Regions from separate parts of the Homo sapiens genome. Here region 2 is linked to region 1. Evidence: fine-mapped expression QTL. A gene starts in region 1. The other region holds a variant in brackets. All regions are shown on one strand. Distances are between the middles of the regions.

Region 1 (8,333 bases):
CTATGCAGCACCTCCACCTGCTTCTGTCTACCCACCAACTGTACAGGCACCTGTACACTGGTCTTCCTCAGCCCTAAAATAGACATAGCTCCAGGAGAAAACCTGCCCCTCCAAACCCTAAATACTCAAATCCCACACAGCAGGCGCCAGGCCATACAACTTATCCCACTATTTGTAGACCTAGGCATCACAGTGGCCGCAGGTACAGGGGTAGCAGGAATCGCAACCTCCTCTTATTACCATAAAACCTTATCAAAAGACCTTTCAGATGGTATAGACAACCTTGCAACTTCCATATCCCCTTACAAGCTCAGCTGGACTCCCTAGCGGCAGTCGCCTTACAAAATCAGAGAGGTCTCAACCTACTTACCACCGACAAAGGAGGATTCTGCATTTTCCTAGATGAAGAATGCTGCTTTTATTTTAACCAGTCAGGCTTAGTTCAGGATGCAGTAAAAAACAAACAAACAAACAAACAAAATCTCAAAGATCGAGCCCAAAAGATCAGGGAAAGCAGCTCCTCTACGTGGCCCTCTTGATCTCTCAGCACCTGGGCCGCCTGGCTACCCTCTCTCCTTGGACCTGCTGTAATCCTTTTTCTCCTCCTAATCTTAGGTCCTTGCCTAATACTCCTCTTCACCCAGTTTTTGCAGAATCGTATCCATGCCTTTGCCCATGGAACCATACAGGTCATGATGTTACTCCAGGAGTATCAACACTTTCAAAACCAAAGCCAACCTCCACTTTCCAGCCTTTCCCCTAGCCCCTGCCCACTCTCAGCCTGAAGCAGTCTGATGAAATCAATGCCCCTTCTCTATCATCTGTTAAAAGGCTGGAATGTTAGGGTCCACCCAACTGGACTGTTTCCCGCTCCCATAGACCTAAGCCCCAAAGCCCCACCTGTAACTGTCGGACCCGAGGCCAGCTGTTCCAGGATGCGGTCAAGAAGTCTACCTTACACAACAGAACTGGCAAGAAAAACAACTCCAGGAAGCGGTCAGACACCTGGCACAAAGGATCCCCTACTCCCTGGCCTTTTCTTTTTCCTTCACCCTGACCCAGTTATATGCCCTATAAAACCTTGCTATATAGCCTGTAAGCGGGGCTGCCTCCTCTGCTTTTGTCAAGAGGTAGCCCACCAGGACTGACAATGAATCACATTGACTTGAGTCTATTGACCTCATTCCTTTCTTGGCTGTCCTTCCAATTATCCCTTAAACTATTATTTTCAGTGTTTTATTATAAACAGTGCTGAATATATTTGTGGGGGTTTTCTTTGTTGGTGTTGTCATTTTTTGAGACAAGGTCTCACTCTGTCATTCGGGCTGGAGTGCAGTGGCGCAATCATGGCTCACTCCAGCCTTGACCTCCCCAGGCTCAGGTGATCTTCCCACTTCAGCCTGCTGAGTAGCTGGGAATATAGACACATGCCACCATGCTCAGCTAATGTTTTTGTATTTTTTTTTTTTGTAGACACAGGTTTTCACCATCTTGCCCAGGCTGGGCTTGAACTCCTGGGCTCCAGCAATCAGCCCACCTCGCCCTCCCAAAGTGCTGGGATTACAAGCATAATGCCAGCCCAATGCTGAATATCTTAGACATATATCCGGAATGTTTCGGTGAGTATATCCATAGCAGTGAATTTACTAGGAATTATCATGCTATTATTCGGTTTAACATTCTTTTATCCTCCTCCACTCCACTGCAGTTGAGAATAAAATCTAAACACCTTATCTTGATTTACCTGTGGCCAAGATCTGACCCCTGCCTGTCTCTTCAACCTGTTTCTTTCAATTACTCCTTACTGATGGCCTGAAGCCACACCAGCCTTTTGTCCTCAATCCCGCAAATTTATTCTTTTCCTAGGAGCCTTTGTACTTGCTCATTCTTCTTTGTAACACTTCTGCAAGAGGTGGCTGGCTCTTTGCCAGCGGGGTCTCAACTCAAAGTCCTTCTCCCTGAGGCCTTCCAGGTTTAAATGAGCACTCCCAGGCCTTCATGTCATGCTGTTAAATTGTAATCCTAGCATTTCATTCTCTAAGAAATTATTTTGTCTTCCCTTCTGGAATGTAAGCTCCAAGTGCGCAAGAGCCCTGTTTGTCTCATTTGTGAGTCCCAAGAGCTCAGATGAGTATGTACTCAAAATATATCTGGTAGGCCAAGTGCGATGGCTCACGCCTATAATCCTAGCACTTTGGGAGACTGAGGCAGGCAGATCACCTGATGTCAGGGGTTCAAGACCGTCCTGGCCAACATGGTGAAACCCTGTCTGTACTAAAAATACAAAAATTAGCTGGGCATGGTGGCACATTCCTGTAATCCCAGCTACTTGGAAGGCTGAGACAGGAGACTCACTTGATCCCAGGAGGCAAAGGTTGCAGTGAGCCGAGATCGCGCCACTGCACTCCAGCCTGGGCAACAGAGGGAGACATCATCTCAAAAAAAAAAATAATTCTGGTGAATTAATGGTGTGGATTTAAAATTGTGATATATGCTGGGTGCCTATAGTCCTAGCGTGGAAAACATAACAAGTCCCCATCTCTAAAAAATAAATGAAATTATCATATAGGCTGCCAAATTGCTTTCCATACAGAGTCACCAGTTTTCAAAGTCACTGACAGTGCTTGTTTGTTTTTGAGATAAGGTCTCACTCTGTCACCCAAGCCGGACTGCAGTGGTGTGATCATGGCTCACTGCAGCCTTGACCTCCCAGGCTCAAGCTATCCTCCCATCTCAGCCTCCAGAGTAACTGGGATTACAGGCATGTACCACCACACCTGGCTAATTTTTAATTTTTTGTAGAGATGGAGCCTCACTATGTTGCCCAGTCTGGTCTCTAGCAATTGTCTTGCCTCAGCCACCCAAAGTGGATTTTCTGTCTTGATTCCTTTCTCACTTCTTACCTTAATTTATTTGATGAATCATTCACTTTACAAATATTTATTGATTATTCACAGGCTCAGGCACCGTGCTAAAATGGTTCTTTCTTATCTGGCCACACCTATCTTCCAGCCCAATCTTGCCAAGAGTTTTGGCCTGGGCCTTACTTCAAAGTGACGTAGACTTGTACTGTAGAGGTCTCTAGAAAGACAACCCTTGGCTGGGCATGGTGGCTCATGCCTGTAATCCCAGAACTTTGGGAGGCTGAGACAGGTGGATCACAGCCAGCCTGGCCAACATGGTGAAACCCCATCTCTACTAAAAACACAAAAATTAGGCGGGCGTGGTGGTGCTTGCCTATAATCCCAGCTACTGGGGAGGCTGAGGCAAGAGAACCATTTGAACCTGGGAGGCGGAGGTTGCAGTGAGCCGAGTTTGCACCACTGCACTCCAGCCTGGGCAACAGGGCGAGACTCCTCCATCTCAAAAAAAAAAAGAAAAAGAAAAAAGAAAGACAACCCTTAATGGGGGAGATGAGGACAGTCCCTACACAGAATCTTTGGCAGTGTCAATGTATACATTAATTTGCTAATCAACTAGGCTAGCCCTTTAATCTATATATTGTACTGGATTTTAAAAATTATTTCTTTACTTTCTCATTAGACCTTCCTCTTTTTTTTTTTTGTTTGTTTGTTTGGAGACAGAGTCTCCCTCTGTCGCCCAGGCTGGAGTGCAGTGGCAGAATTTTGGCTCACTGCAACCTCTACCTCACGGGTTCAAGCGATTCTCCTGCCTCAGCCTCCTGAGTAGCTGAGGTTACAGGTGCCCGCCACCACGCCTGCCTGATTTTTATATTTTTAGTAGAGACGGAGTTTCACCATGTTGGCCAGGCTGTTTTGAACTCCTGACCTCAGGTGATCCGCCCACCTCGGCCTCCCAAAGTGCTGGGATTACTTCTGTGAGCCACCACCGCGGCCGGTCCCTTCCTCCTTTAAAAATTTTTCTCCCAGTTCCCACTTTTTGTGGGTTAGAGGCATCTAAATTGAATGAAAGTACCCTTTTTGGACTACTGGGGAGGTGGGGGGATGTTCTCAGAAGGGGAATTTTCTTTCTGGTCCTAATATCCACCTAATTTTTAAAAGCAGGGCTCCTTATTATTTTGTAAAGTTTACAATTACATCATTAGATACTTCCATGTCTCATATTTCATTTTTCCAAACTCTTGGGGGAAATGAGTGGAGGGATGGATGGAATAGAAAATAGTTTTTCCTCTTGGAGGCTGAGGGCCCAGTAGGGGTCAACAGTACATTCAGCCCTCTCCTCACATATTCTGTTCTACCTACAAGTACAGCAAGTAAAGCCAAATTTCTCATGCATGCAAATAAAGTTTTTGCATTTGGCCAGTCGGTCCAGTTCTCCTGTCAGCTTCCTTCCCCACTCTGCCTCTGTTCATTAATCCCCCCCTTCCCGGTACCTAAACCCTCCACCTAACCCAGCCCTTTCTTCCACTTCCGGCTACTAGCCTCTCTCGCCTATCCACTATCCTCACACTCAGCATCCCCTGTCTGTACGAGATTAAGGAGCTCTGCCGTCCGCAGGGCCTGGGTTAGCGTGAATCTAAGCCAGAGCTCCCGGGTGGGGGTGGGGGTAGGGGTGGGGGTGGTCCCAGAGGTAGGGCGAGGAGGTGGGAAGCGTATTCCCTTCACTGGTGATCTCAACGTAGATTTGCCCGGAGTTCTCTTGCAAGAGAGCTGGCAGGTTTTACTATTTCCCAATCGTTTACTCGCCAAGCTCTCGGGTCCACGCGCCGCGGGGATGCGCCCTGCAAGCTGAAACTTCATTCAAAGCAAGGCGGCCCACGAGGTTGGGCTTAGGGGATCTGGATGACCTCCAGGCCACTTCCTTTCTCTCTGCGCCCTTCCCCCACTCTTCCAACCACCTTCGCTGTAAACAAAACTGTCCCCCCCGGGCGGAGAGAGGTCGCGCTCTTTCGCACACTCCCTCGCCAAGGGTTAATTTCTCAAATCGCACGAGGGGGAGGAGATTTCCCTGTAGACGAGTAAAAAGGGTGATGGACAAACGTGCGGGCACTAAGACCGCAAGGCATTCATTTCCTCCTACGGTGGATGCGGACGCCGGGAGGAGGAGAGCCCCAGAGAGAGGAGCTGGGAGCGGAGGCGCAGGCAATGCTCAGCCCTGGATGTAGCTGAGAGGCTGGGAGAAGAGACGACCGCTGGAGACCGAGCGGCGTGGGGAAGACCTAGGGGGGTGGGTGGGGGAAGCAGACAGGAGAACACTCGAAATCAAGCGCTTTACAGATTATTTTATTTTGTATAGAGAACACGTAGCGACTCCGAAGATCAGCCCCAATGAACATGTCAGTGTTGACTTTACAAGAATATGAATTCGAAAAGCAGTTCAACGAGAATGAAGCCATCCAATGGATGCAGGAAAACTGGTACGTGATGCTTTCGCCTGATACTGTTCCCGGGAGCCCTGCGCGTCTTCCCGGAGTGCCTTAATGTCGGTATTCCCTGCCTGGGCGTGAATGGAGCGATGAATCGCGGGCAGCCAGCTGATCGCTGAGTTCTCGGGTCTCCCGGGTGCAGGAGACGCTGGGGGGGGGGGGGTACATGAAGCGCGAGGTCTGTGGGTGCCCCTGTGTGAACCGCGGCTACATAGGCATCTTTTATATAGATTATATAACACAGAACATATGTGTGTGCACAGGGTGATGTCTGCGCGACAGGGAAGGCGGGAGAGATGCCACAGTCCAGATCGCCTACCTGTGCTCCCCTCCCCTCCCCCGGTTTTCATCTAGATTTGGGTTTTCTCGCTTGGCCTCTCCCGCAACCGGAGTGTGAAAGGCAGTGGAGGGAGGACCTTGTCTCCTGTTGCCTTTAACCCTCTCCCGCCCGCCGCCCTTGGCCCTGGTCCTCGCTGTCTCTCCATCCCTCGTGTCCTTCCTTTCTCCTTGCAGCGCTCCTACTTCACCGTCCTCCTCTGTCTGCCGCTCCTCAGGCGGATGCCCCCTTTTTAGTACCCCTTTCCCCACGCGGTTCCCTTTCCGGTTTCATAGAGAGACCGGGTGGGAGGGAGGAGGGGACAATGAAAACAGTAATAAATGAATGAACCCGAGCGAGTGGAGCCACGCCATTATTAAGTTTCTGTTTTACGGAAACGCCTTTTGGACACACTTCTAATTCTGTGCGTAGCTGCTGATTGGAGTTCAGGCACACAGATTAAAAGCCCCTCCGTCTGCAGAGTCCTTAGGGGCTCTTCCCTAGGAAACTAATAATCAGGGAAAACACCTTTCTTGTTTACTGTAGTCCCCCCGCCAGACCTTTTGAAAATCCCTGTGTGGGAGGCGATCCAGTGTCACCTTGCAATATTTAACAGAGGAGGGTGTGCTCATCTCGCTTCTTGTAGACAGGGTTGTGGCAGAGGCATTCCTCTCCTCCCCTTAACTTCGGGTCTGGCGATCTGTAAAGTTCAAGCCCAACGCACCCCGGAGCTAGGCAAGGGGCCGGCAGCCCGGGGGATGGCTTGACCGGGGAGGGTCGGGCCGCAGGGTCTCCCGGGAGCCGGGGGATTCCGCCCGCCGCGTGCGCGAGCGCGCGTGCCCCGCGCCCTCCCGCCTGCCCTCTTCAACTGGAAACCAGAAACGCCGGCGCGCCTGTGGCCTGGGCGGGTTGGTGCAGTAGGAGCTGGTGCCACGGGGCCGCAGCTGCGAAAAGGGGGTTTCAACTTCCTGTCCTCCAGCCCCCTGGAGTCGCCGGCCAGTGTCGGGAGGCCCGGCCGCCGCTTCCTTCTCCTCCCGCCCGGCCGGAGCGCGCCCACTCCCAGCTTCCCGCGGGCTGGTCCGGGCCCCAATGGCCATTTGCGGCGGCTGCCGGGCGGAGCCCGCCTCCTGGGCCGCGCGCACCGGCGGGGCAGGCCTGCTTGGGGTGAGCTGCGGCGTGGCTGGTGGCGGCGGTGGGCTAGGGGCCCAAGGGCCGCGTCTGGCCCGAGCCGGAGCCTAAGAGGCGGGGACGCGGGCCGCTCGGAAGGACTGGAAGTGCAGCAGCCACACAGGCACAGGGCTGGTGCCCTCCCGGGCCGCTGAGGCCAGGGGGTGCAGGGGTGGGTCCGGAAGGAGGTTGGACACTAAGGGTCGAGACCGCAGATAGACCTCGGCGTTTCGGGGCAGCCGAGGCCCCTCGAGCCCCACCGCCCGGGGTCCTTCTCTGGATGCACTTCCTCCTCCCGCTTAGGGGGTGGTGCTGGAGGCGGGGAGGGGGCGGTGGCCGGAGCCGGCGGGCGCCGGAACCGCGCTGCTGGCTAGCCCCGGGCCCGGGTCTTCTCCGCACATGTTTGTCATATCCTCCAGCCGGCCTGTTCGGGCCCACAGTCCTCCCGCATTAGCCTGTGTGGTCAGTGTGGTCAGCATTTGCTTCTGTGCCGAATCTCTGACTTGCTGCGTCCTGGTTTAACCTGCTCTTCCGGAGTCCGCTTTCCCTCGCTTTGCTGGCTGACCCCATTCACTGTACGCCCGCCATTCCTAGCCCACTGCAGTCGATACTGCCTCTTATTTACTTGTTGCTTTTTCTCTGAGGCCACTTCCTAGGCCTGCTTCAGGTACCATTTCCCGCCTCTTCTCTCCATTCACTCAGTACTGAGCCAGACAGGTCTCAGCCCTCGTGGGACTGAAAATGACAAAAATGTGCCAACGTATCTACTCCTGTTAGGTTCTGACCACTGTTTCCTCCTAGTTCTTTATCTGTACCTTTCTTCTGGCAATATCCTTTACTGTTATATACATGGTTATTAACTTACAGACCATCAGCTCTTCAGGTTACGGTTCTTGTCATCCCACTCTTGATTCTGCAAAGCACCTAGCAGAGTGCTTTGCATAAGGCACATTCTTGAGAAAATGTCCAGTGAGTTGAAATGGTGATTGGTGCCCATTTTATTGCCAGCACTACTCGTTAATACCCGAAGGTTAACAGGCTAGAACTTGCATACCGTGGCAGAGTCACATCTTGGGATTTTTCCCTTCCTGGCTTCTGCTCTCTGTTGATGTTATGTTCTTAGATTGCTTATTGCAGTCAAAGAACCCTGCTGGCTGTTACCCCTCCCTTGCAACTCTTCCTGACCCTAATTGTCTTACTTTCATGTTTTTTTTTAAATGCCAGATTTTGTGCATTTCTCCCAATATCCCAGGGTGCCCAATTTTATCTCTCCTCCCTCCCCAAAAACTGTACAGCCAAAAAGACTTTAAACACTTTTTAAAATTTAATTTTATTAGCCGGGTGTGGTGGCTCCTGCCTGTAATCCCAGCACTTTGGGAGGCTGAGGTGGGTGGATTACCTGACGACAGGAGTTCGAGACCAGCCAGGCCAATATGGTGAAACCCCATCTCTACTAAAAATACAAAAAAATTAGCCGAGCGTGGTGGCGGGTGCCTGTAATCC
Region 2 (8,333 bases), 34 kb after region 1:
GAGAATCCAGAGAGAACTGGGAAGAAGAGTGGATAATTTCCAAACACCTGTGTGTGCTCACACACACACCGTGAATCCTTCACCATTGTTTTAATATGGAAGATGATTGGAGTGTGTTTTCTAGAAATTCTGAATAATACTTATTTAAAGACTTCTATTGGGCTGGCCAGGCATGGTGGCTCACGCCTGTAATCCCAGCACTTTGGGAGGCTGAGGTGTGTGGATCACCTGAGGTCAGGAGTTACAGGCCAGCCAGCCTGGCCAACATGGTGAAATCCCATCTCTACTAAAAATACAAAAATTAGCTGGGCATGGTGTTAGGCACCTGTAGTCCCAGCTACTAGGGAGGCTAAGGCAGGAGAATCACTTGAACCCAGGAGGTAGAGATTGCAGTGAGCCGAGATCGCACCACTGCACTCCAACCTGGGTGGCAGAGCGAGACTCCGTCTCAAAAAAAAAAAAACAAAACAAAAAACCCCAAAACTCTGTTGGGGTCGGGTGCAGTGGCTCACACCTGTAATTCTAGCACTTTGGGAGGCCAAGGTGGGTGGACCCTGTCTCTACCAAAAATACAAAAATTAGCCAGGTGTGGTGGCATACACCTGCAGTCCCAGCAACTTGGGAGGCTGAGATGGGAGAATTGCTTGAGCCCAAGAGGTCTAGGCTACAGTAAGCCATGATGGTGCCATTGCAAACCAGCCTGGGTGACAGAGTGAGACCCTTTCTCAAAGAAAATAACATTTAAAAAAGACTTACTGGACGTTTAATAAGGATATTATTAACTAATAATCATTGAGCTTACCACGTACCCACTAAAGGCTTCATGAACATTAATTTAATTAACCCTCCATTTTATGAAGTAGGCTTTGTGATTGGGCATGTCTTGGAGATGAGGTTAAGTAACTTGGAAAAGGTGGGACACCTGGTGATTGGCAGAGTGAGGCTTCAAACCCAGGCAGTCTAGGTCCACACTGCCTGTCCACAGAGTCTGGGTCTCTCCTGCTTTGGCTTATGACGTCAGCACCTACTGGGAAAATTACAGAAACCATTTTCAAAGGTGATATTTTGAAAAGCATATGGTGGGGCTCATTTTGTTTAAATGAGCTCTGCACAATGAAAGCACGTGAGAGCAGTTTTTGAAAAAGTTCTGATTGCATCCATTGAATTTGACTTTTTTTTTTTTTCTTTTTTAGACAGTCTTGCTCTGTCGCCCAGGCTGGAGTACAATGGCACGATCTTGGCTCACAGCAGCCTCTGCCTCCTGGGTTCAAGTGATTTTTGTGCCTCAGTCACCCAAGTAGCTGGGATTACAGGCATGCAACACCATGCCTAGCTAACTTTTGCATATTTTTTTAGTAGAGACGGGGTTTCGCCTTGTTGCCCAAGCCGGTCTCGAACTCTGGGCTTCCAGCAATCTGCCCACCTCAGACTCCCAAAGTGCTGGGATTACAGGCATGAGCCATCACACTGGCCTGAATTTGACCCTTACTCTAATGATTTATAGCCATATAATTCTCATGCAATAAGCTAAAAATACACCTAAAAATGATTTACTCTCAAAGGGTTTTAACTTTTTTTCATTGAATCTCTTTTATGTTCACTTAAATTTTGGCTCTGTTCATAAATTGATACAAAGACAAAATTTCCACTAAAATATTAATCTTAAGTAGTAGACGTTTTCTAACTATACCTTCCAATTGGAATTAAGCATTTAATCTAAAATTATATATCAAAAATACAAGAAAGAACTTCCTTAATTGCCTGGATATGTTTCTGCCTCTCAAGGCCTCAGAAAGTTTTGTACAAACTGTTAGAATAGCCCTAATCATGGAGATAGGTGTTTTATTTTTTCTCTCCAAAAGCATAAGAGAGGTTGGGTGCAGCAGCTCACGCCTGTAATCCCAGCACTTTGGGAGGCCAGGGTGGGAGGATGGCTTGAGGCCAGGAGTTTGAGACCAGCCTGAGCAGCACAGGGAGACCCTGTCTCTACATACAAACATACATACATACATACATACATACATACATACATACATACATACATACATACATAACTGAGGTGGTGGCAGGCACCCTGTAGTCCCAGCTACTTGTGGAAGCTGAGGATCATTGCACCACTGCACTCCAGCCTGGGCAACAGAGTGAGACTCTGCCTCAAGAAAATAAATAAAATTTATAATGTTCCCCCTTCACTCCCCTCTCTGCAACCAAAAAAACATCCTTTAGTAACTCTTATGTAACCATTAAAACTATATTATAGAAGAATATATCTTGACAAAAAAAATGTATACCACATGTTGCAGAAAACTCTGCTTATGAAACAGCATGTATAATAACAAGGCCAATTTGTAAACACACACAGAGAGAGACATATTTACAGTTAGTATAAGGTTAAGTACTTAACGCTGTATGTACTAAAACACAAGTCCTTTTACTGTGCATGTAAAAATACTCTAATAGCGATTACATTTTGAAGATGGGATAAAGTTTTTATTCCTGAGAACCAGAAGTGTGTCTCAATGCACCTAATATTTTTGCCAGTGGAGAGATACTGAAACCCTGTGATCTTCAGCTACTGTGTGCATTCAGACTGTTTGGTCTTCTTGGGTCAAGTCAGCTGGTGATTACTAAATGATGAGAGTGTGCCTGACATGCAGGAGACAGGTGAGAAGACAAAGAAATAGAAGGCAATGTCCTAGCATTGGCAGACAGACAGACCCTCTGTATATATTTCAACTTATTTGGATCACAGTCTGTTTAGGAAGGCAGATGTACATGCAAAATACAGTAGAATGCTACAGAAAAAGAACAAATATTCCAGTGCTGGAATATAGTATTATAGTAACTATAGTATAGAAAATCACTATGTGCTAAGAAATTTAGAAACACTCCAGCAAAAGGCAGGGACTTTGAGAGCTAATAGTTGGGTTGATGAAAAAGGAAGACGGAGTTTCCTTTCATGGTGGTAGCACCAGAATACTCATGATGTCTTATATGCTAACCATGAGGGCTGACCATGCTGAGATTAACAGGCAGTGTTCATTGCCTTCTGGCAGCAAGGGCAAAAGTGGAAACACAAGAATTTTTTCTTTTTTTTGAGACGGAGTTTCACTGTCACCAGGCTGGAGTGCAGTGGCGCGATCTCGGCTCATTTACAACCCCTCCTCCCGGGTTCAAGCGATTCTCCTGCCTTAGCCCTTCTAGTAGCTGGGACTACAGGGCGCGTACCACCACACCCAGGTAATTTTTATATTTTTAGTAGAGATGGGGTTTCACGGTTGTTGGCCGGGATGGTCTCGATCTCTTGACCTCGTGATCCACCTGCCTTGGCCTCCCAAAGTGCTGGGATTACAGGCGTGAGCCACCGCGCCTGGCTGAAACACAAGAATTTAAGAGAATTCTTGTTATCTGAAAAGAAAGGTGATGTCTCATTATTGCTCAAGTAAGTTAAGAACAAACCAAGGTCCTAGCCCAAAGACAACAACATTTGAAGGAAAATCAGGGATATAATGTCAAAGAACACTGCAGTCCAGGGGCGAAATGAATGTGCCTTGAGCAACTTCTCTAGGATCTCACTTGATAGCAGGCTGGGATTTATAGTACCCAGGGGAAGGCTGACAGTATCTTTCCTCCAGATCAGCTCTGAGCTGGGCTTTTGTTGATAAGCTGTCCCAGGAGTGCTGAGGCTCTGTCACTGACAGAGGAGGCAGATGTATTGAAAGCAGGATCGTGGGTTGATAATTTGTTAGGGATGTAGAGAAGCCTAACTGGTTTTCTTA[C/T]GTGGAAAAGACCACCCTCTTTTCCCACTTCCCAGATGTGCTAAACTCTTCTGGCAGAGGATATAGGATTGTCCTTGGGGAATTAGCCTTGGGTTCACTCCAATGCATGGGTAAATGTTTGGTTTTGCAAGGCAGGTGTTACCTGGCCAGCTCCACATACTTTATTACAAAAATCCTCCTGTTAGTTCTGACAGGAATGCATCATAATTGTTATTTTATAGTTGAGGAAGCTGACTCTCAAAGAAGTGATTAACTCATCTCTGTGTGTGATTCAGATGAGATTAGAACCGCCCAGCTCCTGAGACCATGCTACTTCCTGCCTACCACAGCCACATGTGCTACAGAGAACAAAGCTGAAGTGCAGGCTGCTGTGTCTCTGAGCTAGACAACCTGAGCTCATCCCTCCTGTTTCTTGCAGTGCTATTAAAATGGAGGATTTGATGAGCAGCAGTAGCTGAGAGGAGAATCAGCCTGGCCTGACTAAGGTTTATGTGGGGTTTGAGGAATAAAGTTGGGTTGTGAGGGTCGATTGGAAGCTTGGAAGCCAGGCTAAGGAGTTGGAGTAGGTCTGCTAGACAGGAAGGAACCACAAAATCAGGAACATAATGGTGGAAGGGCCTCCTGTAAATTGTCGATACTTAACTATTTTGGCCTATGAATGGCAATAGCACATGGTTCCACTAAACAGGTGCCCTGGTATTGTTTTCTGTGAGAGGATAATGGAGAGGGTTGCTTATAGTTTGTAGATATCTAGCAAATGGTCTGTTTTGCTAGTCCAGCTAGTCAGAAACCAGTCCTCTTTTTGAAGAATAGAGATCAAACCTGCTCTACAAGCTTATATGTTTACCACAATTTGGGTGGCATGATAAAGACTAAATGCACAGAAAGGCCACATACCACATTACATTCAGGAAATCCTTTCTTAGTTGGGTGTGGTGGGGTGCACGTGTAGTCCCAGCTCCTCGAGAGGTTGAGGTGGGAGGATTGCTTGAGCCTGGGGGGCAGAGGTTGTAGTGAGCTGTGATTGTGCTACTGCACTCCAACCTGGGCAACAGAGTGAGACTCTGTCTCAAAAAAAAGAAATTCCCCAAAACAAGAAATTCTTTCATCAGAAATAAATGAGCAGCCTACCAACCCACCTGCCTTCCAACCTGAGTGTTTTTTTTTTTTTCTTTTTTTTTTTTTTTTTGAGACAGGGTCCCACTTTCACCCAGGCTGGAGTGCAGTGGCGTGATCATGGCTCATTGTAGCCTTGACCTCCCTGGGCTCAAGCGGTCCTCCCACCTCATCCTCCTGAGTAGCTGGGACTACAGGTGCATGCCACCACACCGGGCTAATTTTTCTATTTTTTGTAGAGATGGGCTTTCGCCACGTTGCCTCAGCTTGTTTCTGCCTTGGCTTCCCAAAGTGCTGGGATTACAGGCATGAGCCACCTCACCCGGCTGTGCTTGCTTTCTTGTGACAAATGTTCATGGCATCTTGTGGCAGACTTATGAAAGCTGAGTTAGGTCAAAGTGTTTCCTTAGTGCCTAGCTCAGAATACTCATGCTATACAAACCGTTTTACTTTTTCCTTTCCTAGGGTGGCCTTGGCTTCATCTTCCCTCACCTTAACTTGTCATCAGGGCAGCAGTGTATCAAACTCTGGGACCTGTGGATTCAGACACAGTTTCAATTCTGCCTTTGCTACTTAATGACTTGGTGAACTTGAGCACATTCATTAACCTCCCTAGGCCCCCATTTCTAAGTGTGAAATTGAGATAATCAAATTAGGCTGTAGTAATAATTAAACTAGTTAAGGTGTGTCAATGGCTTACAAAATGTCCAGCACTTTCTAGGCTCTCCATGAAAAGTAGCTTTTACTGGCATGACTCTCAGCAGATATTTTAGTATTATTTTGCTTTCAACTGAGTAATGAATTCCTAGCCAACATTTTTGAACTTCTCATTACACATTCAGAAATGTCATGTCACAACCAGGGCTAAGAACTTTTCATTGCTCCCAAATTGCCTGTCACTATGACTCAGATTTACCCACCTGATAAGGAAGATTCCTTGACCTTAACTCACCATTCGATCTTACAGTTAGTTCTCCCATTGCTCTATAAGTATCTTATGACCCTGGCAAATTAAACCACTGGAATATCTCTCTTCTTTCTCTATTTCTGAAACTTAGAAAGCCCAACTCAGTGCTGCCACCTTCATACAACCTTTTAAGGTTTTGAACTTTTAATCTTAAACTCTTCCATTTTTGCTTTTCATTTGGCAGTGGTAGATTTTCTCATATTAAAGTCAGTTGTGACTTGTATATCACCCTTCTAGCATTTTATACTCATTGATGATAAGACTTGGCCTTCATCCCAGTCTGCTACACTATGCGGTCAGTCCATAACTGTTAAATTTCAGTGACTCAGTTTGATGAATATTTATTGAGGAGCCTGTATTTGCCAGACTCTGTTCCAGGCACAAGGCCGCTGTTCTCAGAGACCGTTCATACCACTAGGACACAAACACTAAACATGTAAACAAGTATATAGACAAAATAACATTAGATGTTGCTAACTGCTATAAAGAAAATAGTGTGATAGGAGGTGACTTGGGGCCAGAGGGAGCTGTTTTAGCTAGGGGGTCAGGGAAAGCCTTACTAAAGGATTGGCATCTGACCTAGTAGCAAATGAGAAGACCATGTTAGCCCTGGGCCCATCTAGGAGAAGAGAGATCCAGATAGGACACAACAAATACAAAGCCCCCTCAGGTGAACTGTGTATGGCTTCGCACCCAAGTAGGCTTCTGCTTTCTGTTTTGTGTCTGAATACCTCAGATATTGATTGCACATTTGAATTGTAGTTTGGAGTTCATATATTCTCAGTGTGATTCTGTACTATTTTTATCTAAATGATTGGGTCTTTCTTCATTCACAGGGACTGATTTTCCCCTACATAGTCTTGGACACAGACCATTTAGTTCAAACCCCAGCTGCACCACTGACTATCTGGGTGACCTCAAGTAAATTGTTCACTCCTGAAGACTCAGTTTTCTCTTCATCAATGAGTGTCCCAATAACTGCTTTGCAGAGTTGTGAAAATCTAATTAAATAATGTCTATTAACTAGTATGTAGTAGAAGCTCAGTAAACAGTGGAATTTATTATGTTGCATATCACATTTGTGTACCTTAAAATTTGGCGTACTTCAGCACATTCATTAACCTCCTGTAGGGAGGCAGGAGGAAAATGGCAACTTTAATTTTCTGGGGAAAACAGTCATCCAAAATATCTATATATTCAGGCCTGGCACAGTTGTTCACACCTGTAATCCCAGCACTTTGGGAGGCTGAGGTGGGTGGGATTGCATGAGCCTAGGAGTTGGAGACTAGCTTGGGCAACATAGCAAAACCCTGTATCCAAAAAATAGAAAAAAAATTAGGCATAGTGGCATGTGCCTGTAGTCTCAACAACTCAGAAGGCTGAGGTGGGAGGATCACCTGAGCCTGAAGAGCTCAAGGCTACAGTGAGCTGTGATTGCGCCACTGCACTCCAGCCTGGGCAACACATTGAGACCCTGTCTCAAAAAATAAAATAAACCCACAACCCACAAGATGTCTATATTCAGCAAAATGGTTCAGCACAGCCTCTTGAAATCACTACATTAAAGTTTTACTGAGTCTGACTAAAATTAAGAAAAAATTTTGGTTGTCTGTTACCTTTATAATTAATTTTACTATGGGTAATCTTTCAATCATTTGCTCAGTTTTCTACTGTTAGCATTCTTTTAGTTTATTTTTTAACTTTAGATTAAAACAATTATAAACTAGGCATGGTATAAAATTTAAAATGTTCCACAAGGGTATGCAGTGAAAAAGTATTTTATATAAAGGACTACATCCCTTTCCCCAACCACACAATTCTCCTCCCTGCGGATAGCCAGTGTGCTCTTCAGAGATGTTTTGTGTGCACAAAAGCAATTACAAATAATGAGATTCTCATTATTCCAGGTAGATATGTTCTGTAAAGTCACCGCAAACACTGAACTTGTGAATATGGAACCCTTGCACTTAGGGAAATACAGCGTTAGTTTCCTGAGAGCTTTTGGTTACAATATTTCTGATCAACACATAACCTAGTTTTGTGTGTGTTTCTGCTTAAAATACCTTATTTAACATATATTGTTGATTCCTTAACATGGAACTCACAGCCAACAGCACTAACTCATGCCTGAATGAAGCTTATCTAACATACGTAGTTTCTCTGTAAGACCTGTTGAAGCCTTCTCGTTCTTAGGAACATGAGATAGCAGTAAGCTTGGGAGCCATTTTAAACCGTGAAATTGCCAACACAAAGCACAAAAATTGGAAAGACATGGAACTAAATAAGACTGCAAAAGAGACACCTATTTTGCAGTATGAGAGCTGAACAGGAGGCAGTGTGTCACCTTGCTCCACCTCAGCTGGGGATGTGCAGGTCAGGCAACTCCAATTTTTCATCCCTCTGTGCATGTTTGAAAATGACCATGAAAGTGCCATCAGTATAGACTTGGGGTTAAATTTTCATAAGTAGGA

Direction of the effects. Positions count from the first base shown, and alleles are read on the strand shown. Sizes are in standard deviations (SD) of each study's normalised expression.
For the expression in fibroblasts of the gene that starts at base 4,970 in region 1, allele T in region 2 goes with a higher level than allele C (large effect, 0.79 SD a copy in GTEx).

What was found. PIP is the estimated chance that this variant, and not a neighbour inherited with it, causes the effect.
Region 2: its variant is fine-mapped to the expression of ELOVL6 in fibroblasts (GTEx, PIP 0.97).

What each region holds. Positions count from the first base shown.
Region 1 is chr4:110,195,252-110,203,584 of GRCh38, reverse strand. ELOVL6 (ELOVL fatty acid elongase 6) reads left to right here and starts at 4,970. Exons shown (of 4, transcript NM_024090.3): 1 at 4,970-5,338. The coding sequence starts at 5,250. RefSeq lists enhancers at 4,597-5,389, 6,978-7,272 and silencers at 6,304-6,933, 7,134-7,243.
Region 2 is chr4:110,161,374-110,169,706 of GRCh38, reverse strand. All of the region lies in intron 1 of ELOVL6 (ELOVL fatty acid elongase 6), which reads left to right. Among named protein-coding and RNA genes, the nearest start is that of ELOVL6, 33 kb to the left of the region's middle. The variant C/T (reference allele first, on the strand shown) is at 3,780.